3 separate regions of the Homo sapiens genome follow, and regions 1 and 3 are each linked to region 2. The links come from fine-mapping of genetic effects on gene expression. A gene starts in region 2. Each other region holds a variant in brackets. All regions are shown on one strand. Distances are from middle to middle.

Region 1 (8,184 bases), 94 kb before region 2:
GTACTAATTGTCCCAGAAGGGAATGATTGTTTCAGAAGGGCAGAAGGCCAACTGAGCTGAAATACCAGGTTCTTAATTTATAAAGTCAATAAAAGCACTCTTTTGTAAGCTCTTCTGAAGTCATAGCATATTATCAGGTAAGTCTGGCACTAAAGCTCTTTATGCTTAAATACTTCACAAGGGCACGAAACAAGGGAACATACACTTAGAGCTGCTTGAATTCGTTTTGTGAGAGACTTAATACTGTGTGAATTTACTCAGCTTTCAGGAACACAGAGGCATTTTAATTTTTTTAAAAAGTCACCAGCTACATACTCAAGATAAAAACACACACTCTTAACTACCTGCAGTTTATAATAATCCACAGAACTTTTACAGCAGGCCTACTTTGGAAACTGTATTCAAGGTCTTGCTGAAGATTCGGGAAATCATGCTCCTTTCTTATTTAAACAATATGTTGTCTTCTTGTGTGAATAGAGGGATGAATTAATACTCCTTTTTTTTTCTAGGTGGCTTTGTGCCAATGGAGGGAAAAAGAAAGATAACAAGGAACTAGACACTGTGGGTGAACTCCTGGCCTCCTGCTGCGAGGCGCCTGAGGACCCTGGGCTCTCCCTCCTCGGTTTGGGCTTCAGAGGACCCTGGGCTCTCCCTCCTCGGTTTGGGCTTCAGAAGGTGGCTCCACTTCTGGGTGGCAGTGACAGGCAGACCTGCTGAGAGCCCAGAGAGAAATACTACCCTGCAGGGAGATAAGGTCATCAACCTGCCACCACTGGTATATTCCCATAATAATGTCCACTGGTCCCAGTCGAGAGGCACCCACTCCTTTTCCTCTTGTCTAACACAGGAGTCTCGAGCTGCCTAAAGAAACCCATTTTTGGGAAGAGGATTAAAAACAAACAAACAAACAACAAAACTGTGCTCCAAATGTATATAACCCTGTAGATTAATGAAACATTTGGGCCAAAGTTCTGTATTCTCATAGGCAAAGACTCTCATAGTATTAATATATTCACTGATTTTAAATTATTTTTAACTTAAAGGTTTTGTTTTAATCTGCTGTGATGAAATCTTGGATCACTATAGCTGTAAATGAGTAGATTTATCTAGATATGTTAAATGAACAAATGTAAAATGTTCGATACAGCACAGGTGCTTAATAAGTTGGCTTCAGAGCCGTGTTTTTCCAACATGTTCTGATGATCCAAGTTTGATACTTAAGACAATTAAAAACAAGAAATTTAACTTAGTTTCAGCACATGTATGGTATATATATTTGTATGGCTATGAGCTTAGGCTGGTCGTAGACATAAGACAATTGAAGCACTCTTTTCCACAGGTATCGGCCGCATTCTGTTTCACTCCCTATAAGCATTTGATTTTGCACTACAGGTATTACTGAGACCATGTGGAATCTCACTTAGTTTTATTTCCCTTTAGGGTAGTTGCCTAAATCATAAAATTATGCTTCACTGTAGTGGTAGGAAATCTAATTTATTTATTTATAAGATGGAGTCTCATTCTGTTGCCCAGGCTAGAGTGCAGTGGCATGATCTCAGCTCACTGCAACCTCTGCCTCCTGGGTTCAAGCGATTCTCCTGCCTCAGCCTCTCAAGTAGCTGGGATTACAGGCACCTGCCACAAACTCTCAGCAAATTTTTGTATTTTTAGTAGAGACAGGGTTTCACTATGTTGGCCAGGCTGATCTTCAACTCCTGACCTCAAGTGATGCACCCACCTTGGCCTCCCAAAGTGCTGGGATAACAGGCATGAGCCACCCTGTGCCCACACCTGGCCAAGAAATAATCTAATTTTTTTAAAAAGACATAAAATGTGTTCATGAAAGAGATTCCACCCAAATCAACACATAAATCACTCTAGTGGCAAAGTAGTTTATTTATTATGTTTCCTTAAAGGAGATTAAGACTCGACTCCTCTCCCAGCCGGGGCAGCCCGGGAACTCAGCGCCCCCCTCCAGTGGTGCCCAGAGCCTCCCAGCGCCATGTCCATCTCTCTTCCTCTTGGCATCCATTGTGGCACTCAGCCCACCTCTGCCTCATTTCATGATTGTGTGCTTTTGTAGTTTAGAAACAGCTGCGGCAAGCATTTAGGTAAAGGCCTCAAGCAGACAACCTACAGGGTGCTCCGTGTCAGTGCAGGTGCCTGGGCAGAGAAGCTGCGGCACAGCTGCAGAGGTGGCCCTGGGGGTGGCGGGGGCCTCTGCTATCAGGAGGATGTGGAAGGCCACTGTGGGGCAGCCCTGCACGGGACAGAGGGCTTTTGGGACCACGGGAACTGAGAGGAGCCGTTAGGAGGGGGTCACGGGCTGCAAGTTCCACAGTGGGGCCCTGTTGTCCCAGCCAGCAGAAGCACCAGTGACTGTCCCACCCTGGAGCCTGGAGCGAACCAGAGGACTTGTTAAAACAGATTGTTGGACCCACACTGTGTTTCTGGATTGGGAGTCAGGAGTAGGCCTGAGAATGTGCATTTCTAATGAGTGCCCAGGTAATGCTGATGTCACTGGTCCAGGGACCACACTTTGAGAACCAATGTGATAATCAAGAAATGTCTTTTGAATCAAATTTACTAAAATATTCATAAACCTTTCTCCACCCGAAGGATGCAAACGAAAGGGAGACACAGAGACTGTCAAAGCTATAGGCAGTCTGCAGGTGATGATTTTATTTTTTTAAATGTGGTTTGGAATCTGGAGTCTGAGACCTGGACCCAAATCTCACCACAGCTTTGTGCTGGCTGAGCACCCTGGGAAGGAAGGTAACTTCACAGCGGAACCCCTAGCCCCACACCTATTATCTAAAGACGATTGCATGGCCCCCAGAACAGTGGGGACTGAATTTCGTATGGCAGGACCTCATCTGAATATACAGTAGGTGCTCAATACGTGCTATTACCCTCTTCCCTTTTTGGCAGTAGACAGATAAGCTTTTTCTATGACTGATACCATTTTTAGATGTGAAAACACTGACTCCTAGAGAGTAACATTTCATCACTAGCCTTCAATGGTAATTCATACAATTGGAAATGCATGGAAAGCCATATTTTTCACTTCCTTCTCCTCTCTTGTTAATCTTATCTCATATTCATGGGTGGCCCAAAACTTTTCATAGCTTTGAGCGCTCTGTCCCAATATTTTTAAGTACATGGAACTTGTTAGCAACTT[T/C]GATTTTTTTATTCAAAGGAAGTGCCATAACACTTCAAATCATGTCAATTCCATGACACTCATCTTCAAAAAAGATCTTTCAGTTCAAATCTTAGAAAGCAAGTTTTTAAATTATAAAAGATATGCTTCTTATATTCTCCAAATCCTGCTCCTGAACAGGGATATTGTTTCAATAGTTTGTTCCTTTTTCACAGCTGAGCAGTGTTTCATTGTATGGATATCCACCATGTGTTTATCCATTCACCTGCTGATGGCTGTTTGGGTTGTTTTCCCTTTTTTTTGCTATTCCAAATAAAGTTGCTATGAATATTTGTATACAAGTCTTTGTGTGGAAACATGCTTTTATTTTTCTTGGGTAGACACCTAGTAGTGGAATGGCTGGGTCACATGGTAGGTCTAATTTTCACTTTTAAGAAACTACCAAACCAGGCTGGGCGCAGTGGCTCACATCTGTAATTCCAGCACTTTGGGAGACAGAGGTGGGAGGATCACCTGAGGTCACGAGTTCAAGACCATCCTGAGCAGCATAGCAAGACCCCATCATCTTTACAAAAAAATAAAATGTCTATTGAATCAAATTTACTTAATATTCACAAACTTTTCTCCACCGGAAGGATGTGAAGAAGGGGAGACAGAGACTGTTAAAGCTATAGGCAGTCTGCAGGTGATTTTTTTTTTTTTAATGTGGTTTGGAATCTGGAGTCGGAGACTTGGGCCCAAATCTCACCACAGCTTTGTGCTGGCTGAGCATCCTGTATATAATTTAAATCAATGTGTAAGTCTCATTATAAAAAGTTACAAAAATTAGGCTGGGCACGGTGGCTCACGCCTGTAATCCCAGCACTTTAGGAGGCCAAGGCGGGTGGATCACGAGGTCAGATCGAGACCATCCTGGCTAACACGGTGAAACCCCATCTCTACTAAAAATTCAAAAATTAGCTGGCGTGGTGGTGGGCGCCTGTAGTCCCAGCTACTCAGGAGGCTGAGGCAGGAGAATGGCATGAAGCCGGGAGGCGGGGCTTGCAGTGAGCCGAGATCGTGCCACTGCACTCCAGCCTGGGCGACAGAGTGAGACTCTGTCTCAAAAAAAAAAAAAAAGTTGCAAAAATTAAAAAATATTAAAAGTTGTAGTCAGCCAGGCGTGGTGGCTCATACCTGTAATCCCAGCACTTTGGGAGGCTGAGGTGGGAGGATCACTTGAGCCGAGAATTTCAAGACTAGCCTAGGCAACATACTGAGACCTCTGTCTCTACAAAAAATAAAAAATTTAGCTGGATATGATGGCACATGCCTGTGGTCTCAGCTAGTCAGGCTCAGGAGGAGCATTTGAGCCAGGGAGTCAAAGCTGCAGTGAGCCAAGGTCACACCACTGTACTCCAGCCTGGGTGACACAGCAAGACCCTGTCTCAAAAAAAAAAAAAAAAAAAAAAAAAAAAAGAAAAGAAAAAAGAAAACCTTACAATAAGTGAAACAGGTAGAGAGTAACAAAATACATTCAATTCAAAATGAACTCTCTAACCACTGCTCACATCCCCACTACGGTGTACTCATCAGAGTAGTCAGTGATACTTTTATGATATACGTTGGATCACATCATTCTTTTGTTTAAAAATTTCCAGTGGCTTCCTGTGACATTTGAGAAAAAAGCCAACCGTGGTAAGGTCATCCTTACCGTGACCTCAGAGCAACCTCTACCATCCCACCTGCCCATCTGCTCTCCCTCTCCCCTTTATCCACAGTGCTCCAGCCACTCTGGACACCCTGCCAGTCCTTGACTGCATCCAGCATGCCCCTGCTCAGAACCTCTGCACATCTTTCCTCTGCCTGGGCTGATCTCCCCCTGGATGGCTGCATGGCTGCTCGTGCTACTGTGTTCCAGGCAAGTTGGTCTCTGCTCTAATGCCACTGCCCCAGAGGATCCTCCCTCAGCCGCCCTTTAAAAAATGGCCTACCTTATCATTTATCTTTTCTTGCTTTTTCTTCATTGTACTTAATTCCCTCAAAAATAATATATATTTTTACTATCAGCTTTCACCTAGTTGGAACCTATGATCTTTAAAGGTGGGGGTCTTGTTCAGTGCTGTATCCCCAGTGCTTAGAACATGCCTGAACACAGGAGTTGCTATCTGTTGCATGCATAAATGAACTCAGAACAAGAATGCCTGATTTTCCAATGTCCATACCAGGTTTTACACATCTTTATAATCTTTGCCAATCCAGTATGTGGGAAACAGTATTCATTTCAATTTGTATTTCTTGAGTATAAGTGAGGTCGAGTATCCTATGATGTTTTTTGGCTTGGCCTTCAGAAAACTAATTTTTCTTTTCTTTTTTTTTTTTTTGAGACAGAGTCTTGCACTGTCACCCAGGCTGCAGTGCAGTGGCGCAATCTCGGCTCACTGCAAGCTCCGCCTCCTAGGTTAACGCCATTCTCCTGCCTCAGCCTCCTGAGTAGCTGGGACTACAGGCGCCCGCCACCATGCCCGGCTAATTTTTTGTATTTTTAGTAGAGACGGGGTTTCACCATGTTAGCTAGGATGGTCTCGATCTCCTGACCTCGTGATCCGCCCACCTCGGCCTCCCAAAGTGCTGGGATTACAGGTGTGAGCCACCGCGCCCGGCCTCAGAAAACTAATTTTTCATATCCCTTACTCAGTTTGCTTTTTTCCTTTTGCTTTGCAAGAGCTATTGATACATTAAAGAAATTATTTCTTTGTCCACCATATGCTGCAAAAATTGACTTTGCCATTCCAAGATCATCAAAGCATTCATATTTGTTTTCTACTAATACTTTTATATTTTTACATATGAAAGATTATGTTTAGATCTTTGATCCATCTGGGATTTACTCTGGGGCATAAAGAATAATGAAGGGATCTAGTTTAAAAAATAAATTTAGCTTTAAAATACGATGAGTATACATTTCTGGATACAATTATACAATTTGCTATTGTTTTAACTTTCTCTTAGAATGTTCATACTCTGAAAAATAAAATCAAATGAAGCTCACCTGCTTTACAATATACATTTTTCTAAGCACACTTGATATATATGTAAATATGTGTCAGAGTCTATACATATATATGCAGTATTTTCCACAATTCTCTGGAATGTTATATTAAAATCTGATGTTATTATCACTATTAAAATATTTTTCCAGAAAGTTTCTATTTCATTTTCTCAATGTCGTCTCACTTTCTTGGATCTTGATTTCTTTCTTTTTACACTGTATTTTTTCTCAAAAAGTTTCTTCTCAACTAAGCTCACTTCTTCATGGAGAAGGGAAGTCTTTATTCTGAGCAGGAAGGAGAAGAGATTTAGTATAAACTGATAACTCAGAGAATAATTTGATTCTTCATAGGTTGTCACATGTGTACAATAGCTAGAAGGGAAAAAGAAAAAAGAATTTATCTTTAGATGGTAACCAAGAAATGCACACACTAACCCCTGAACATCCCCCCAAATAACTTAGCAAATATATATGGTTAGGCTTAAAACAGGACCCTGAGCTGGAAGGAAACTTAGAAGAATTTGTTAACTCCTTAACTGCACAAAGGAAAACATGTTCACACTGTCCATGGCCACCACACAAGGGCCACAGGTGGTGCTAAGAGCTGGTCCTTCAACTCTTTGCTCAAAGTTTCTTCACTCCAGATGGGCCACCACTCCACTTTCTTACCATGGTCAAGGCAAACAAAAGCACACAGGGAGAGATTCTGAACATATTTCTAAAACAAACTAAAGAAAACAAATAATTCCTGACTTCCACCCAAAATAAGACACTAGACTTTATAATGTAGCTTGCAATACTATATGTATTGTGAGAGAAGAGTTTACCAAGCAATTTCCATTATTTTAAAATAGGAAAGCCTTCCGTTACAAGATGGCTGAACAGGAACAGCTCTGGTCTGCAGCTCCCAGCATGATCAGAAGACGGGTGATTTCTGCATTTCCAGCTGAGGTACCTGGTTCATCTCACTGGGACTGGCTGCACAGTGGGTGCAGCCCACGGAGGGTGAGCCGAAGCAGGGCGGGGCATCACCTCACCTGGGAAGGGATTTCCCTTTCCTAGCCAAGGGAAGCCATGACAGACTGTACCTGGAAAATCGGGACACTCCCACCCAAATACTGCGCTTTTCCAATGGTCTTAGCAAACGGCACACCAGGAGATTATAACCTGAGCCTGGCTCAGCTGGTCCCTCGCCCACGGAGCCTTGCTCACTGCTAGTGCAGCAGTCTGAGATTGACCTGCGAGGCAGCAGCCTGGCAGGCGGAGGGGCGTCCACCATTGCTGAGGCTTGAGTAGGTAAACAAAGCGGTCAGGAAGCTCAAACCGGGCAGAGCCCACTGCAGCTCAGCAAGGCCTGCTGCCTCTGTAAACTACACCTCTGGGGGCAGCACACAGCTGAACAAAAGGCAGCAGAAACTTCTGCAGACTTAAACGTCCCTGTCTGACAGCTCTGAAGAAAGCAGTGGTTCTCACAGCATGGTGTTTGAGCTCTGAGAACAGACAGACTGCCTCCTCAAGTGGGTCCCTGACCCCCGTGCAGCCTAACTGGGAGACACCTCCCAGTAAGGGCCGACTGACACCTCATACAGGCAGGTGCCCCCTGGGACAAAGCTTCCAGAGGAAGGATCAGGCAGCAATATTTGCTGTTCTGCAGCCTCCACTGGTGATACCCAGGCAAACAGGGTCTGGAGTGGACTTCCAGCAAACTCCAACAGACCTGCAGCTGAGGGACCTGACTGTTAGAAGGAAAACTAACAAACAGAAAGGAGTAGCATCAACATCAACAAAAAGGACATCCACAACAAAACCTCATCTGTAGGTCACCAACATCAGAGACCAAAGGTAGATAAAACCACAAAGGTGGGGAGAAACCAGAGCAGAAAAGCTGAAAATTCTAAAAACTGGAGCACTTCTTCTCCTCCAAAGGATTGCAGCTCCTTGCCAGCAACGGAACAAAGCTGGATGGAGAATGACTTTGACGAGCTGACAGAAG
Region 2 (8,184 bases):
CAATTCACCAGTTTTGTCAAGGGAAAATGTTTTTCCTTTTACTCATTTAATATATTTTGTCCAGGTTTTTCATTGTTTAGGGGACAAAGGTAAGTCTGGTCTCTGTTAGTCCATCTTAGCCAGAAGCAGAAGTCTACACAGTTACTTTTAATGTCCCAAATTTGCCTTTCTTAAGCCTGTATGGTGAAGGTAACATTTGTTCCTTCCTGGATCTGTAGACTTTGAGGAAATCCTTTTCCACTGAGGAGAGTCCTGGCACATTTAGCCTGTCCAGCAGCAGACTCTCTACACCCTTGATCACTTTGGTGATGCTGGCCCGAAGGTGTGTTCACCACAATAGGACCTAGCACTCACAATGTGAAGGTAGCCTCGTTTACCAAGGTTACACAGGACAATATGACAATCTCTACTTTAAGAGGCAGGTGTGATGGGTAAAATGAACACTGAAGTCAGAAGACTCACATTCAAGTCCTGGTACTTGGGTAACTTTGGCAAACTCACTCAACTTCTGAGCCCTATCAATAGGCTCTCACAGTTAGTGATGAGGAGGAAATGAGATAATGGATCCAAAAACTTTGTAATCTGTAAGGTACTATACAAAGGTAAAAGGATAACGAAGAATAATTCCAATATTCCCAACAGTCCTCAAGCTTTCTTTCTCTTTTTTAGACAGAGTCTTGCTCTGCTGCCCAGGCTGGAGTACAGTGGCGTGATCTCGTCTCACTGCAACCTCCGCCTCCTGGGTCCAAGCGATTCTCCTGCCTCAGCCTCTCAAGTAGCTGGGACTACAGGCGCATGCTACCACGCCTGGCTAATTGTTGTATTTTTAGTAGAGACGGAGTTTCCCATTGTTGGACAGACTGGTCTCAAACTCCCGACCTCAGGTGATCCACCTGCCTTAGCCTCCCAAAGTGCTGGGATTACAGGCGTAAGCCACTGCGCCCGGCCCAGTCCTCAAGTTTTCTAACATTCCATCTTCCAAACCTCTAAGCCACCATGACACATTTAAAAAAATGTAAATAAGTACTAACTGATAAAAAGAAATGCATCATCTTCTAAGTACAATTTTAATTATTTCCCTCAACCACATACTCTGAATAAGAAATCATTTATAAATGTGGCCCAACATAATTTCAAAAACTCATCCTCAATCTAATTCACAAATCCCTTAACCTATGTGTAAGTACCTAAGACCACATGCATCCTTGGAATGTTGGCATTGCATGAGTGACAAAAATCAACCCAATTCTTTGGGACTTAGACTACATATCAGGCTGAAATGGCAATTTTTAAAACATAAGCAAATTCATAAATGATATTTGTTACTTACCTCTGTAACATTGTGGCAAGAAGTGCAATAATATTTGCCTTCATCAGTAAGACCCCATGAGACAGCAGCACACTGAGTACAGCGTTCTTTAAACTCTTCCTATGGGAGAAGAGGACAGAAAAGGTGTTCCCATCAAGCCACATTCAATACATCGTACCTAAACCTTGCAGTTCTATTTAATGGGTTCCTGGCAACTTTATTAATAAAAAATCATAGACAATAAAAAATATGTCAGAGAGATTATCCGCAAACAAGGAGAGGCGCGGTATGAAACCGAATTAAACTACTGGAGAAAATTTATTGAAATATGCAGTGTGACAGGAAAAAAAAAGAAAAGGAGGTAGTAGGGGTAAACTGGAACCAAAGATGAGTAAACAAAGCTCCTTGAAAATACTGTGAGAAGATGACAAACAAGTATAGAGAAGACTTTTAAAAAATGCAAATACAATTTGGAACTCCTCCAGGACACTAAAAGCGCATACCACAGAGGAACTAGATTTGTAATGGTTTCAAGTTTCGATTTATTCACTCGGCAGCATAAGGGGTATCAACTATGTGTGTACCAGGCTTTTTACTAGGTGCTGGGGATTCAATGGTGAGCAAAACAGACCAGACATGATCCCTAGTCTGGGTATACGCTAGCTAATGGTGAGTTACAATTATTCATTTCATCAGCCTAGCATTTACAGAAGTTAGCCAACCATCATCAGTAAACATTTTTTAAGCCTCTACTATAAGACCGTACTGCTCCTGTATATACAGGCCTAATTCTCTGATCCCCAACTCTTTGGAGTTTGACTTGTTGTTAGCATTGATCTAATTATCGAGTATCATTTAATACCATCAAAGCGTGTGCCATTTGGCCGAGGGCGGGGGATCACCCCTATAATCCCAGCACTTTGCGAGGCTGAGGCAGGAAGATCGCCTGAGCCCAGGAGTTCAATACCAGTCTGGACAACATAGCGAGACCCCTGCCCCTACAAAAAATTAAAAAAAAAAAAATTAGCCGGGCTTGGTGGTGCATGTCTGTAGCCCTAGCTCATTGGAAGGCTGAGGCGGAAGGATCTCTCGAGCCCAGGATTCGAGGCTGCAGTGAGCCGTGATCGTGCCACTGTACTCCAGCCTGGGGGAAGAAGTGAGATCTTGTCTCAAAAATAAAAAACAAAAATGTGCCATTTTACGTAGTACCTAAAACAAAACAAAATGCATGCCAAATCAATTTTGGCAACTTGGTAAAGTGTTCAGTGACCCCGTACTAACACTACGATGAATGATAGCTGGACAATTTGGGGAGTTCCCAAACCCGAATTTAGAATCCCTGCTGGAGACAGTGGCAAGGATTCCCGGAGAGACCGACAGGGGTTACCCGGCGGCATCTCAGGTTCCAACCCCTGCCCCTCCCTCACCCACCCCAGCATTAAAGGGAACTTGTGGGTGGTCCAGTCTCGAGGATGAGCCCTGTGGGTGGCCACCCCACAAAACCCACAGCTTCATCCTTAAACACACCCATAACGACAAACACCACACCCTCCCTCCCCCACAACCTCGCCGAGCCAGAAACTCCAGCCTCTTTACCAAAGCCGCGCGCGCATGCGGCCGGCCAGCCCCAGTCCTTAGCCCGCCCTGCAGCCCTCCGCCCCGCCTTCCTCCAGCCGGTGGCGTCGCCGCCCCAACCCGCGGCGTCCTCCGCCGCTCCTCCTCAGCTTCTCTCTCCTCCGGCCCCGGCGATCGTGGCCCGCCAGGTGCACCGCCTCCTTACCGCCTCCTCGAGGTCCATCGCGGCGCCGCGGGAGCTTCCACAGCCGGGACCCGTTACCCGGGTAGCGAGCGCAGCTTCCGGGAAAGGCTGGAGAAGCTTCCGGCCGGAAACGCGAGATCCGCGCCTAGGATTCCGTGCGCCTGCGCGGCAGGGAAACCGCGCGCTCGGGGGCGAGGCTCCGCAAAGCTCGCAGACCCCTCGCGGACTACCTAACTTTCCTACTCTTGAGAACCAAAACCAACCAATAAGAAAGTGGGCGACGCCTACTGCTGAGTGGTTTGATCAAGCTCCGTTCCGACGATCATTCATTCCAAGACAGACTTGCTCCTCCGGCGGCACGGGGGGTCGGACAAGGCCGTGCTCGCGAGCGCGGGCTCTGTCCTCTGTGGGTTCCGCCCTCCGTGGGTTCTGCCCTCCGAGTCTCGCCCCTTGCTGGCTTTTTTAAGGGGAAGCCTCGGGGCTTGGAGGAAAGCTCACGGGCTGTGAGTTAGACCTAGGTTTCTAATCACGGCTCTCCTGCTTACTTGTGCCTCAGTTTACTCCTCTGTAAGAATTAGATGTTATCTGTGAGCCCCTTATAATTGAGTCTCCACCGGGCGTGCTGGTTCACGCCTGTAATCCTGGGGAGGCTGAGTCGGGAGGATTGCTTGAGGCCAGGAGTTGGAGACCAGCCGGGGCAACAAAGCGAGACCCCTTCTCTGCATAAGTAAATAACTGAATAAATAAATGCATGAGTGAATATAATTGAGTCTCAGTAAGTGCTCAATAAATTTAGCTCTTATTGTTTCTTCATCTAACACATTCATTCCTTGTTTTATTTATTAAACAGGAACTGGTTTGTGTCCTGGGGATTCAGCAGTGAACAAAGTAAACAAAAGTCCTTGCCTTCATGGAGATTGTATTCTGATGGGGAGAGACAAAAATAAATAAGGAAAATATGTGGTATGTTAAGTGGTGGTGAGTTCCAAGGAGAAAAATAAAGAGGAGAGGAGAATGGGAACAACAAGGTGATTTCAGTCTGAAATGTGATGTTCAAGAGAGATCTCATTGAGAAGAGGATTTTTGATATAATCGTACATCCCAAGAAGTTAGAAAAAAGATTAAACTGAAAAATAATGGGATGAAGGAAATGTTTAAAAAAGAGAAATTAATAAAAGAGAAAGCAAGCTTCGATAGGCTCCACAAAGGCTTGCTGTGGTGGCTGGTGCCTGTAATCCCATCACTGTGGGAGGCGAAGGCGGGCAGATTGCTGGAGGGCGGGAGTTGGAGACCAGCCTGCCCAACATATTGAGTCCTCATCTCTATAGGCTGGAGTACAATGGTTCAATCTCAGCTCAGTGCAGCCTCCACCTCCCAGGTTCAAGCAATTCTCCTGCCTCAGCCTCCCAAGTAGCTGGGATTATAGGCACGCGCCACGACGCCTGGCGAATTTTTGTATTTTTAGTAGAGACGGGGTTTCACCAGGTTGGCTGGGCTGATCTCGAACTCCTGACCTCAAGTGATCTGCCCACCTCGGCCTCCCAAAGTGCTAGGATTACAGGCGTGAGCCACCACGCCCAGCCTAAAAGATATTTTTTAAGAAGAGAGTCTCAACCAACTAACATTAGCTCTTTGAAAATACTAATACATTCGATAAACTCTGGAAAGATTGATCAAAAAGAAAAGAGCCCAGCTTGGTGATGCACACCTACAGTCCTAGCTACTTGGGAGGATGAGACGGGAGGTTTGCTTGAGCTCAAGGCTGCAGTGAGCTATAATCGGGCCACTGTGCTCCAGTCTGAGCAACGGAGCAAAGAAAATCAAAATAAACTGATATCAGTGGCATCACTAACCAATATGTAGGGGCATCACTGCAAATACCACAGACATTAAAAAGATCATAAGGGCATATTCTGAACAACTCTAGGCCAATAAATGTGAAAATTCCACCAATTTTTTTTTTTAAGACAGTCTTGCTCTTTCACCCAGTCTGGAGTGCAGTGGCACCATCTCAGCCCACTGCAACCTCCGCTTCCCAGGTTCAAGCAATTCTCCTGCCTCAGCCTCCTAAATAGCTGGGACTACAGGCGCCTACCACCACACCTGGCTAAGTTTTGTATTTTTAGTAGAGATGGAGTTTCACCATATTGGCCAGGCTGATCTTGAACTCCTGACCTGCCCACCTCGGCCTCCCAAAGTACTGGGGTTACAGGCATGAGCCACCACGCCTGGCCAAATTCTACCAAATTTTTAAGAAAGAAATAGGCCAGTCATGGTGGCTCACGCCTGTAATCCCACCACTTTAGGAGGCTGAGGCAGGAGAATATTTGAGGCCAGGAGTTCGAGACCAGCCTGACCAACATGACAAAACCTCGTCTCTACTAAAAATACAAAAATTAGCTGGGCATGGTGTTGCACGCCTGTAATCCTAGCTACCTGGGAGGCTGAGGCACAAGAATTGCTTGAACCTGGGAGGCAGAGGTTGCAGTGGGCCAAGATCATGCCATTGCACTCCAGCCTGGTTGATAGAGAGAGACTCTGTCTCAATAATAATAATAATTTTAAAAAGAAATAAATAACACCCATCTTATACAGATGCTTCCAAATAATGAAAAAAGAAGAGCATTTACCAGTACATTTTAGGAGACAAGCATGACCTTGACACCAAAACTTGACAAGGATATTTCAAGAAAAGTCAAAATTAAAAAGCAATTCCTCTCATAAACATACATGCAAAAGTTCCAAACAAAACATCAGTAAATTGAATGTACATCCTGTTGTACTCAGCAATATATAAATAGGATAATAAATCACAGCCAAGTTAGGTTTATTCTAGGAATGCAAGTTTGTTTAACATCGAGCCTGTAATCTCAGCATTTTGGAAGGCCAAGGTGGACAGAACACTTAAGCCCAGGAGTTTGAGATCAGCCTGGGAAACATAATGAGACCTCATTTCTGCAAAAAATTAAAAAATTAGCTGGGTGTGGTGGCACAGTCCAATAGTCCCAGGTACCTAGGAGACTGAGGTGGGAGGATCGGTTGAGGCTGCAGTGAGCTGTGGTCACGCCACTGCATTCCAGCCTACATGACAAAGCAAGACCTTTTCTCAAAATTAAAAAATGTTAAAAGAAAAAGTAGAGAAAAAAGAATAAAGATTTAAAAAATAAATAAAAGAGAAAAAAATAAATCATACAGTAATCTAGTGTGATGCAAGGATAGACCAAAAAATTGACAGAACTGAATAGAAAGTCCAGAAACGGACTCATAAGTACATATAAAATAATCTGATTTACAACAAAGCTGCTACTAAAATTCAGTGAGGAAAGAATAGCTTTTCTCCTTTTTCTTTGTTTCTTTTTTGAGATAGAGTCTTGCTCTGTTGCCCAGGCTGGAGTGCAATGGCACAATCGCGGCTCACTGCAACCTCTGCCACTCAGGTTCAAGCAATTCTCGGGCCTTAGCTTCCCAAGTAGAGGTAGCTGGGACTACAGGCATGTGCCATGACACCTGGCTAATTTTGTATTTTTTAGTAGAGATGGAATTTTGCCATGTTGGCCAGGCTGGTCTCGAACTCATAGCCTCTAGTGATCCACCCACCTCGGCCTCCCAAAGTGCTGGGATTATAGGCGTGAGCTGAAAGAATAGTTTTTCAATAAATGGTTCTGAATCAATCAGACATGCATATGAGAAAATTATTGACCCCTTTCTCACACTGTACACAAAAATTAATTCAAATAGATCCTACATGTGATAGGTAAAACCATAAAGCTTCTAGAAAAAAAAAGTGGTAAATATCTTTATGATTTGGTGTGGAATAGACTTCATCAACAGGGCACAAAAAGCACTACTCCTAAGAGAAAAGGTCATTACACTGGATTTCATTAAATTAAGAACTTCGATTCATCAGAAGACATTGTTAGGCTGAGCACAGTGGCTCACGCCTAGAACCTAGCACTTTCAGAGGCCGAGGTGGGAGGATTGCTTCAGCCCAGAAGTTCAAGATCAGCCTGGGCAACATAGAGAGATCCTATCTCTACAAAATTTTTTTAAAACTTAGTTGGGTGTGGTGGGCATGCCTGTAGTTCCAGCTACTCAGGAGGCTGGGTCGGGGGGATTGCTTCAGCCCGGGAAGTCAAGGCTGCAGTGAGCTGTGATCATGACACTTCCCTCCAGCCTGGGTGACAGAGACCCTGTCTTTAAAAAAAATTAAAAAAAAAAAGACATAATTAAAGCAAACTAAAAACTGAGAGAAGAAATTCACAATACATATTCGACAAGACATGTAACAAAGGTTTCCTACCGATCTATTAAGAAATAATAAACAATCCAGTTAAAAATAGGCAAAAAGATTTGAACAGGTATTTCATAAAAGATAACAGCTAAATGGTCAATAAATATATGAAAATGTACGCAACGTCATTACTTATCAGACAAGTACAAATTAGATCAGGCTTGGTGGCTCATGCCTATAATCCCAGGATTTTAGGAGGTCAAGGCCTTGCCTTCCACCATGATTGTGAGGCTTCCCCAGCCACATGGAACTGAATAAGTCCATTTGAACCTCCTCCTTTTGTAAATTGCCCGGTCTCGGGTATGTCTTTATCAGCAGTGTGAAAACAGACTAATGCAGTGCGTGAGAAGGGAGAGGATCTGCAGCACCATGGAGGGGTCAGCCCTAGCATAGAGGGTTCATCTGCTGCAGAACCAGGAAAGAAGGGAGAGCACGTGGGACAGCGCAGGTGCATGAGGTGGAAGGTCTGTTCTCTGAGCTTCATTGAAATGGAAGCAAGTCATCAGTTGAGAGTGGGAGTGGGGAGGGCTGTGGGAAGTTTGAGAGGAGACCAGAGGTGTAATAACTCTTGGAAATGGAAGAATGGAATCAGGAATCTAGCAAAAATTGCAAGCAGCATGAGGGCCTACTTGACATTTGCAATCATAAATATAAAGATAAGGCAGTCAAGACACCCAGCCATTCTGATGCTCACTTTGTTAAAACATTCCCTTTACCCTGAAGGGACAAATTAAGTGTATTCCCCATTTCAAAAATATCTGCCAATACTACTGACAACTACTTGTCATCCCAGGAATACTTACTTTCCTGTTTTTTAAAAAAGAA
Region 3 (8,184 bases), 250 kb after region 2:
CTCTTGTTGCCCAGGCTGGAGTGCAATATCTCAGCTCACTGGAACTTCTGCCTCCTGGGTTCAAGCAGTTCTCCTGTGTCAGCCTCCCAAATAGCTGGGATTACAGGCATGTGTCACCATACCCGGCTAATTTTGTATTTTTAGTAGAAATGGGGTTTCACCGTGGTGGTCAGGCTGGTCTTGAACTCCTGACCTCAAGTGATCCACCCATCTCGGCCTCCCAAAGTGCTGGGATAACAGGCATGAGTCACGGCACCTGGCCCTCGCTCCTGACTTCTGGGAAAGACTTTCAGGGAGTTATGTGTCAGTTTGGGGTTTTTGGTCTCTGATCCGTGTTTTTTACAATAATTTTAAAATATTATACATTTATAGGCTATATTCTATCTGGCATTAATAATATTTGGTATTGATAATACAGATACAGACTTGATTATTTGGGAAAGACATGAAGCAGACTCCATTATGTCTTTTAGTTGAGCTAAAGTATACATCTTTACTACTGATAGTATATGGAAAGACGGAACTATTCTGTACCTGTTGTTTCCTTCACAGAGAGCTAGTGGCATCTGACAAAGAACCATGATACCTGGCTGAAACTCCAGGATGGAAGTAATGCCCAAGTCACTTTGTAAAAGCCCAACACTGTAAATCATACGTAATGGTTATATGCAAACTAGTAGTCAAAGTTAATAATTTTAGAAAGAAGAGGTTAGCTCATAAGTGGCTGTGTTGTAATGAATGCAGTAGCTGTTTGGCAGCTTTCTGAATCCTTGGAAGGCCCTTTGTCCACAGTCCTTGAGAACACCCACACATCTAGCATGAGTGACTCAGGAGAGACTAGTGCTAGAATGGAAATTTCTCTCTTCCCTACTCCTCACCCTAAGCCATTGTTCTAGTCAGACTTTTCTCAGCCCCTGCTCTTACAAATCTACCACAGTTAACAGAGCACTAGGTCTTAAAGGTACTGAGTAGCTTTTTTTGTGACCATAAATAATATCTTCACCAGAGCTGGCATCTTTTTGGAGATCCTGTGGAATTTCATTGTAACTGACTGACTCACTTGGAGGAACAAGAAAAGTGAGAGGCATCTTACTTTACATTAGAGTTCCTTGGTGTGGGTACAGGCAGAGGTGGTATTTCTCTCGGTATAAATACTATGTTTGCCTTCTTTGATACTACTTCTCAGAATCCACTCATTTAAAGATACCAATGACTGAGTCAGTTTGAGATCTAGAACTTTTTTTGTGACTATCTCACTATTGCCTCCTACCCTCCTCCTTCCACCACAACCCTAAATTCAGTTCATAAAAATAGTTTTTAAATTGAAAGTCATCCATAATACATGAAAATGGTAATAGAGGAAAAAGTTAAAGTAATATAATTTTTTAAGATTCGAGTGTCTCAGTTTATTAAAAAACTATTAAAATTATATTGGTGATGTTGAGCACAATAAATTCTGAAAAACTGATTTGTCTGTTGTTTTTACAGTTAAGAGTGTAGTGATACTGGAGCAGCACTTGTCACAGTTGCCTTTAATTTGGGTGTGGCCCTAATGACCTCTTTTGCCACACTCCTGGCTCAGCAACTTTCCAACTTGAGCCACAATTTTGATACTCATGACTTCTATAATGCATAAACTTCTGAGACTTCGATACATAATTTTATACTAATTTTTTGTGCGTGCGTGTGTGTGTGTGTGTGTGTGTGTTTTAACTTCCTCTGGCCTCAGGCCCTTAAAAAAGTGTGTGTGTGTGTGTGTGTATATATATATATATATATTTTTTTTAATCTATTTAAAATATTTTTTCAATTAAAGGATTTTTAATGTTTTTCTGGTTTTTTTCTTTTAGAGACAGACAGGATCTCTTTTGCTCTGTCTCCCAGGCTGGAATGCAGTGGCACGATCATGGCTCACTGCAGCCTCCACCCCCGGGGTTTAAGCCTTCCTTCTGCCTCAGCCTTCCAAGTAGCTGGGATTACAGGTGTATGCCACCACACCTAATTTTTTTAAAATTCTTTGTAGAGACAGGGTCCCATTATGTTGCCCAGGCTGGTCTCAAACTCCTGGGCTCTCAGGCAATCCTCTTGCCTCTGCCTCTACTTCCCAGAGTGCTTGGATGGTAGGTGTGAGCTGTTGTACGCAGCCTCTGTTTATTTTCTTTAAAAATAACTTATGGGCCAGGCGCAGTGGCTCACGCCTGTAATCCCAGTACTTTGGGAGGCCGAGGTGGGCAGATCACTTGAGGTCAGGAGTTTGAGACCAGCCTGGTCAACATGGTGAAACCCTGTCTCTACTAAAAATACAAAAGTAAGCTGGGCGTGGTGGTGTGCGCCTGTAGTCCCAGCTGCTCGGGAGGCTGAGGCAGGAGAATCATTTGAGAATCACCACTGCACTCTAGCCTGGGCAACAGAGTGAGACTTTGTCTCAAAAAAAAAAAAAAAAAAAAAGACATGGATGCAGTGATTGCATTTTGTTAGACCACTTTTAGTCAGATAAACAAGAAGAAAGTTCTTGGTTAGAATTGTATATTTTTAAATTTATAAACAGCCTTCCTTTTCTTTAGCAGTTATGTGAATTTGACTCAACCTTACTTGTTAATTCTCCAGACTTGCCAACTTGGTATCATGGATGGTATTTTATATAATATTAACTGAGCGTATCTGTGGTTATTTTTCCAAAATGTAAAAAGGATCTTCTCTCTTCCCTGCTTTAAAACGTTCACTAGTTTCACTTTTCCTAGAGCAGTGCTTTTCAAACTGTGTACCTAGGCTGATACTAGCTAACATTTACTGAGTACTTAACATGTGACACTATTCCAGGCTTTGACATCTGTTACTGGTTTTATTCTCAAAACAAACCAATGAAGTAGGTATTAGTATCTTAACATTTTTATGAGAATTTCATTTTGCTTTGTAATATTTAATACAAAAAAGCTTTTTTTGTTTTTGTTTTTGTTTTTTGAGATGGAGTCCACACTGTCACCCGGGCTGCAGTGCAGTAGCATGATCTCGGCTCACTGCAACCTCCACCTCCCAGGTTCAAGCAATTCTCCTGCCTCAGCCTCCTGAGTAGCTGGGATTACAGGTGCCCACCATCACGCTTGGCTAATTTTTTGTATTTTTAGTAGAGACGGGGTTTCATTATGTTGGCCAGGCTGGTCTCGAACTCCTGACCTTGTTATCTGCCCGCCTTGGCATCCTAAAGTGCTGGGATTACAGCCGTGAGCCACCGCGCCCGGCCCTAAAAAGGTTTTTAAATGGATGACCTAGCATCAAGAAAAATGGAATCTAAGA[AGAT/T]TTCTATCATATTTGTCTTTTGTGACTTTTTATACTCCAAGGCATAGCATACCATGTACTAGAAGTGAAAATTTCTTTGTATGAAATTAGGGACAAAAGACATACTCAAGAACTTTTTTAAAAAAATAATTAGATTTCGTAGACCTAAAATTATTCTTTTAAATTGCTGTGCAAGTTTCTAAACCTCTTACTCTCGATTCCTGTATTTACCTCATTTTAGATGGATACTTGAATGCAAAGGGCACTGAGTAGCACTATTCTCCCTCGTACTTGATGTTTTAAACATTTTGTTTCCCGTCCCTAAAATGAGTGCACATCCCTGTTTTCTGTTTGGTGCATTTCTACTTTTCCTTCTTCATGCCTCAAATACTCTTTCCCTGGGAAGCCTGTCTTAACTGGAGGCCATCTCCAGCAGAGCTACTCCATCTGTGTGCTTCCTTAGCACCGTATTCACATCTTTCTTAGTTCTTGGTATGTAGTTGGTGTACTTACAGACGGTGAGCTTCTTGAGGGCAGGGGCCTGATTTTAAGTCTTCTCTATATCCGTTATAGCACCTAGCAGGTATGAGTAAATGTTGAATGAATGGATGAGTGAACAGATAGGCTGTTTCAAATTACAATGTTTGGTGTAATCTAGAATCTAGCCTTACCATTAGAAACTATAGGCTACATCATTTAAAGCCTCCCAGGGCAACTAGTGGCAACAACCTAACCCCTGCTCTAAGAACATGCTTCAAGTCCAGGCTGGTATGGTATAGTATTACTGTAGTAGTAAATGATTGAAATGCCCGCTAGGCAGAAGTTTTATCATTTAATGATAATGCACAGTAGGCAGAAGTTTAGTGCCTAATGTTCTGTCTTATTTATTTCAGGAATTGTTGGATAAATATTTAATAGCCAATGCAACTAATCCAGAGAGTAAGGTCTTCTATCTGAAAATGAAGGGTGATTACTTCCGGTACCTTGCTGAAGTTGCGTGTGGTGATGATCGAAAACGTAAGTTTATTTGTTATATGGGCAAAAGTAGAATATAAAAAAAAGAAATGGGGATAAATGGGACACTATGACAGTATACGTAGTCTTCAGGCTCTTTGTGACTTAATAATTGAATGTATGTCAAGAAAATTAGTATTACCTTATGTTCTCAAAAATGAAAATTGGATTATAAATTTACATCACATGCTCTTTAAAAAAATTAAGCTCATCTGTGAACTCTGTAATCTCATATGGTATTATTTAAAACAGGATTAATCTTTTATGCTTTTTAGAATTTTGGTTCACCATATTTTTAGCTCCAGAGTTTTTTGTGTAAACTTTATGAGTGATTCTGCATTTCACATGGCCTTTCTATTATGCCTTAAAACTTCAGATCACTGGAAATTACATACAGAACGTGGAAACAGGTTGTTGTGCTTTTGCTGTTTGTCATATTCATTATCGTCTATTTTAAGGGGTCATAACATTGACTGCTAATTACATATAATCAGATTTCTGAGGAGAGGTGAAATGAGTGTGTTATTGCTGGTGTATAACTTGCTCCAACTTCACAGTAAGTTTGAATGACTCATGGTTAGGTTTTACTTGAGAAGGTTGAATATACAGGAACTGTTGATTAATCAAGTAGTGGTCATAAAAATAGATTTTAGTATTAAATACCTTTTTTTTTTAACCTAGACTATCATAGAAAACATGGATATGAGAAAAAGTGACCGAATTGCCTAACTTGATAATAAAAAAGTGAAGTGAATTTATTTGCAGTGAATGTCTCTTGGGATACTGGCAGCTGAATATAAGATAGATCTCATTAAATTTAGTGTATGTGCTTGCTACCAGATTTATCAAGTTCTAGGTATTAGAAGTGTCAGTCCTTATTTTTTCCAGTAAGTTTGTTGTTTTGTTCTTAATTTTGCCCTGTCTACAAAGATATACCCCTACAAATAGTTACTATGATCTGAAAATGAGAGTTTTGCCATCCTAAATATCAGTGTAACTGAATATATAAAGAGAACTTGTACCTGAGAAACTGTTATACCTTGCTATAACAAAATCTATATACTAAACTTACTTATTCTGTTACTGATGTGTAATTTCTGTTGCCATGAAGGTAAGCAGAATTGGACATGATACGGGCACGGAACTGTACATTTAAGTATCAGAAAGCCAAAGAGAAGTATTTGGGAGATTGAGACATAGCTGTAGCTTTAACCTGATTTAACCCTTAGGAGCTCATTGGCACTTTCAGGTCTCACACGTAGTCCTGTGTACATTCTGATAGGCTGCGATTCATAGATAGGCTGTCTTTATAGCCTAATTGCTGAGACACTGGTGCTTCCTAATTTGCCAAGCTGCAAGAACTTCTTATTGCATGTGGGCTGTACCAGTCAGGGATTAGATCAATAAATGTGCCATTTCAGAGGAAAGAAAATGAACATAATTCAGGTCATAAAGGGATAGCTTAATTCTCTTACGTCAGTATCTCTAAAGCTGTAATAGGCCAGTGGCCTCATACAGAAAACTACCCTTTTCAAAACATGGGTATAATCAGATTAGTGTTGGTAATACTGAACATTTTTTGAAGGGGGAGTAACATTTTAATTAGGCTAGTAATCAAACTCTGGTCAGAGCAGATTTTGTCCTATTTATTGAAACTTTTATATTGCCTTTCAAATAATACCACTTGATACTAAGAATCAGTATTTCTGCAAATCAGAAAAATAGAGATTTTGGTGTTGATGATCTTTGTAAAGTTTACATTATTTAGGGAAAGGGTATTCCAGTCAAATTATTATTATTATTATTAATTTTGAATGGAGTTTTGCTCTTGTTGCCCAGGTTGAAGTGCAATGGCGCGATCTTGGCTCACCGTAAGCTCCGCCTCCCGGGTTCAAGTGAGGCTTGTGCCTAGCCTCCCAAGTAGCTGGGATTACAGGCATGCATCACCACTCCCATCTAATTTTTGTATTATTAGTAGAGACGGGGTTTCTCCATGTTGGTAAGGCTGGTCTTGTACCTCCAACCTCAGGTGATCTGCCTGCCTCAGCCTCCCAAAGTGTTAGGATTACAGGCGTGAGCCACTGTAAATTATTCCAGTCAAATTATTTTTAATTGCTGCATTTCCAAGTAATAGAATTAAAAGACATAAAATAAGAAAATAGTTTTAGCCTAGGTATGGAAAAAAGTCTGATTTACTATAATATCTCATGTTTTTTTTCCATTAAGCTGTTTATATGTAAGCAACATTCTAAACTGGTTTTTTGTTTTGTTTGTTTGTTTGAGACAAACTGTCACTGAGGTTGGGAGTGCAGCAGCATGATCTTGGCTCACTGCAGCTTCAACCTCCTGGGCTCAAGGGGTCCTCCCACCTCAGCCTCCCAAGTAGCTAGAGCTACAGGCACGCACTACCATGCCTAGCTATTTTTTATTATTATTATTTTTTGTAGAGACAGGGATAAGATCTCCCTGTGTTGCCCAGGCTGGTCTTGAACTCTTCAGGTTCAAGTGATCCCCCTGCCTCACCTTCCCAAAGTGTTGGGATTAGAGGCATGAGCCACTGCACCTGGCCATAAACAAGTTCTTAAATACCCAGTACACAATATTGTTTTTGTTTGTTTGTTTTTGACACAGAGTATCGTTCTGTTGCCCAAGCTGGAGTGCAGTGGTGTGATGTCGGCTCACTGCAACCTCAGCCTCCCAGGTTCAAGCGATTCTCATGCCTCAGCCTCCTGAGTAGCTGGGATTACAGATGCCCGCCATCACGCCTGGCTAATTTTTGTATTTTTAGTAGAGATGGGGTTTCGCCATGTTGGCTAGACTGGTCTTGAACTCCTGATCTCAAGTGATCCACCCACCTCGGCCTCCCAAAGTGCTGGGATTATAGGCGTGAGCCACCGCGCCTGGCCACGATAATGTTTTTTGTTAGCTACCATGATTTTAAAAGACCCATACAGAGAAAAAATCTTGGTTCTACCAAGAGCTAGTAGCATATGTTCAAGTTGTTAATGTACTGTGTACTGGATGGTTATTTTTAATATTGCACTTCTTATTTTTCGCTCTTCACAGAAACGATAGATAATTCCCAAGGAGCTTACCAAGAGGCATTTGATATAAGCAAGAAAGAGATGCAACCCACACACCCAATCCGCCTGGGGCTTGCTCTTAACTTTTCTGTATTTTACTATGAGATTCTTAATAACCCAGAGCTTGCCTGCACGCTGGCTAAAACGGTAAGATGTGTGTCCAGGAAATACGTACTTTAGCTACAGTTATTTGAGATACCAGGTATGTTAATTTATAGGTATTTTACTTGGATACCCAGGGATGATTTCTACTATATTTATTTTGAAATCTCCTCTTTTTCTTCCCATCATGATTACCTACTCCTACCCCTGACACCTTACTCTACCCTATGATTATAAGCAGTGATGTGCCTACAGAGCATACTGAGCAGAGTAATCAAAGAAGGATAAATGATGTTAAGAAGGAAACATAAAAGATTAGAAAGTCATGCCTGCCAGGTTTGGTTACTAGAATAGCTGTGCATCAGCCACATTCCTCAAAGTGGCTCAAAACGAGAGAATAAAGAGGACCCTGTAGAGATAAGTACTACTTAACTGGAAAGAAGTCTGTTAAGCATTGCTGCTGTTCCGTTGTCCTGTGAAAGAACCAAGACATGCTTGTTTACTAAGTGTATAGTTTTATAAAATTCCAGTCATACTCATAAGTTCTTAAACTGGGAGTGTGAGAGAATGGTTCTGTTGAGTTTGTTGATGGTAGAACATAAGGTGGGTGTTCACTTATTTTGTAAAAATGGTTTGTAATTGTAGAATAACCAGTTTTCGTCAATGCACATATTTTACCATGGATATTAATATTTATCAGGCTTTTGAT

Direction of the effects. Alleles are on the strand shown, and positions count from the first base shown. SD is a standard deviation of normalised expression in the study named. Not every link is listed here.
In carriers of allele T in region 3, the expression in spinal cord of the gene that starts at base 3,175 in region 2 tends to be lower than with AGAT alone (moderate effect, 0.43 SD a copy in GTEx).

Evidence for each region. PIP is the estimated chance that this variant, and not a neighbour inherited with it, causes the effect.
Region 1: its variant is the best candidate, but not a certain one, in a credible set for the expression of TAF1B in whole blood (TOPMed, PIP 0.51).
Region 3: its variant is the best candidate, but not a certain one, in a credible set for the expression of TAF1B in spinal cord (GTEx, PIP 0.72).

Annotation. Positions count from the first base shown.
Region 1 is chr2:9,932,162-9,940,345 of GRCh38, reverse strand. It overlaps TAF1B (TATA-box binding protein associated factor, RNA polymerase I subunit B), which reads right to left. Exons shown (of 15, transcript NM_005680.3): 15 at 5,930-6,563. The coding sequence ends at 6,362. It overlaps LOC105373422 (a long non-coding RNA gene), which reads left to right. Exons shown (of 3, transcript XR_922784.4): 3 at 510-908. Among named protein-coding and RNA genes, the nearest start is that of GRHL1, 15 kb to the left of the region's middle. RefSeq lists silencers at 1,751-2,090, 7,098-7,303. The variant T/C (reference allele first, on the strand shown) is at 3,182.
Region 2 is chr2:9,838,465-9,846,648 of GRCh38, reverse strand. It overlaps TAF1B (TATA-box binding protein associated factor, RNA polymerase I subunit B), which reads right to left and starts at 3,175. Exons shown (of 15, transcript NM_005680.3): 1 at 3,090-3,175; 2 at 1,331-1,429. The coding sequence starts at 3,107. RefSeq lists a silencer at 2,815-2,894.
Region 3 is chr2:9,587,501-9,595,684 of GRCh38, reverse strand. It overlaps YWHAQ (tyrosine 3-monooxygenase/tryptophan 5-monooxygenase activation protein theta), which reads left to right. Exons shown (of 6, transcript NM_006826.4): 3 at 4,170-4,293; 4 at 7,357-7,520; 5 at 8,176-8,184. Among named protein-coding and RNA genes, the nearest start is that of ADAM17, 36 kb to the right of the region's middle. The variant AGAT/T (reference allele first, on the strand shown) is at 3,295.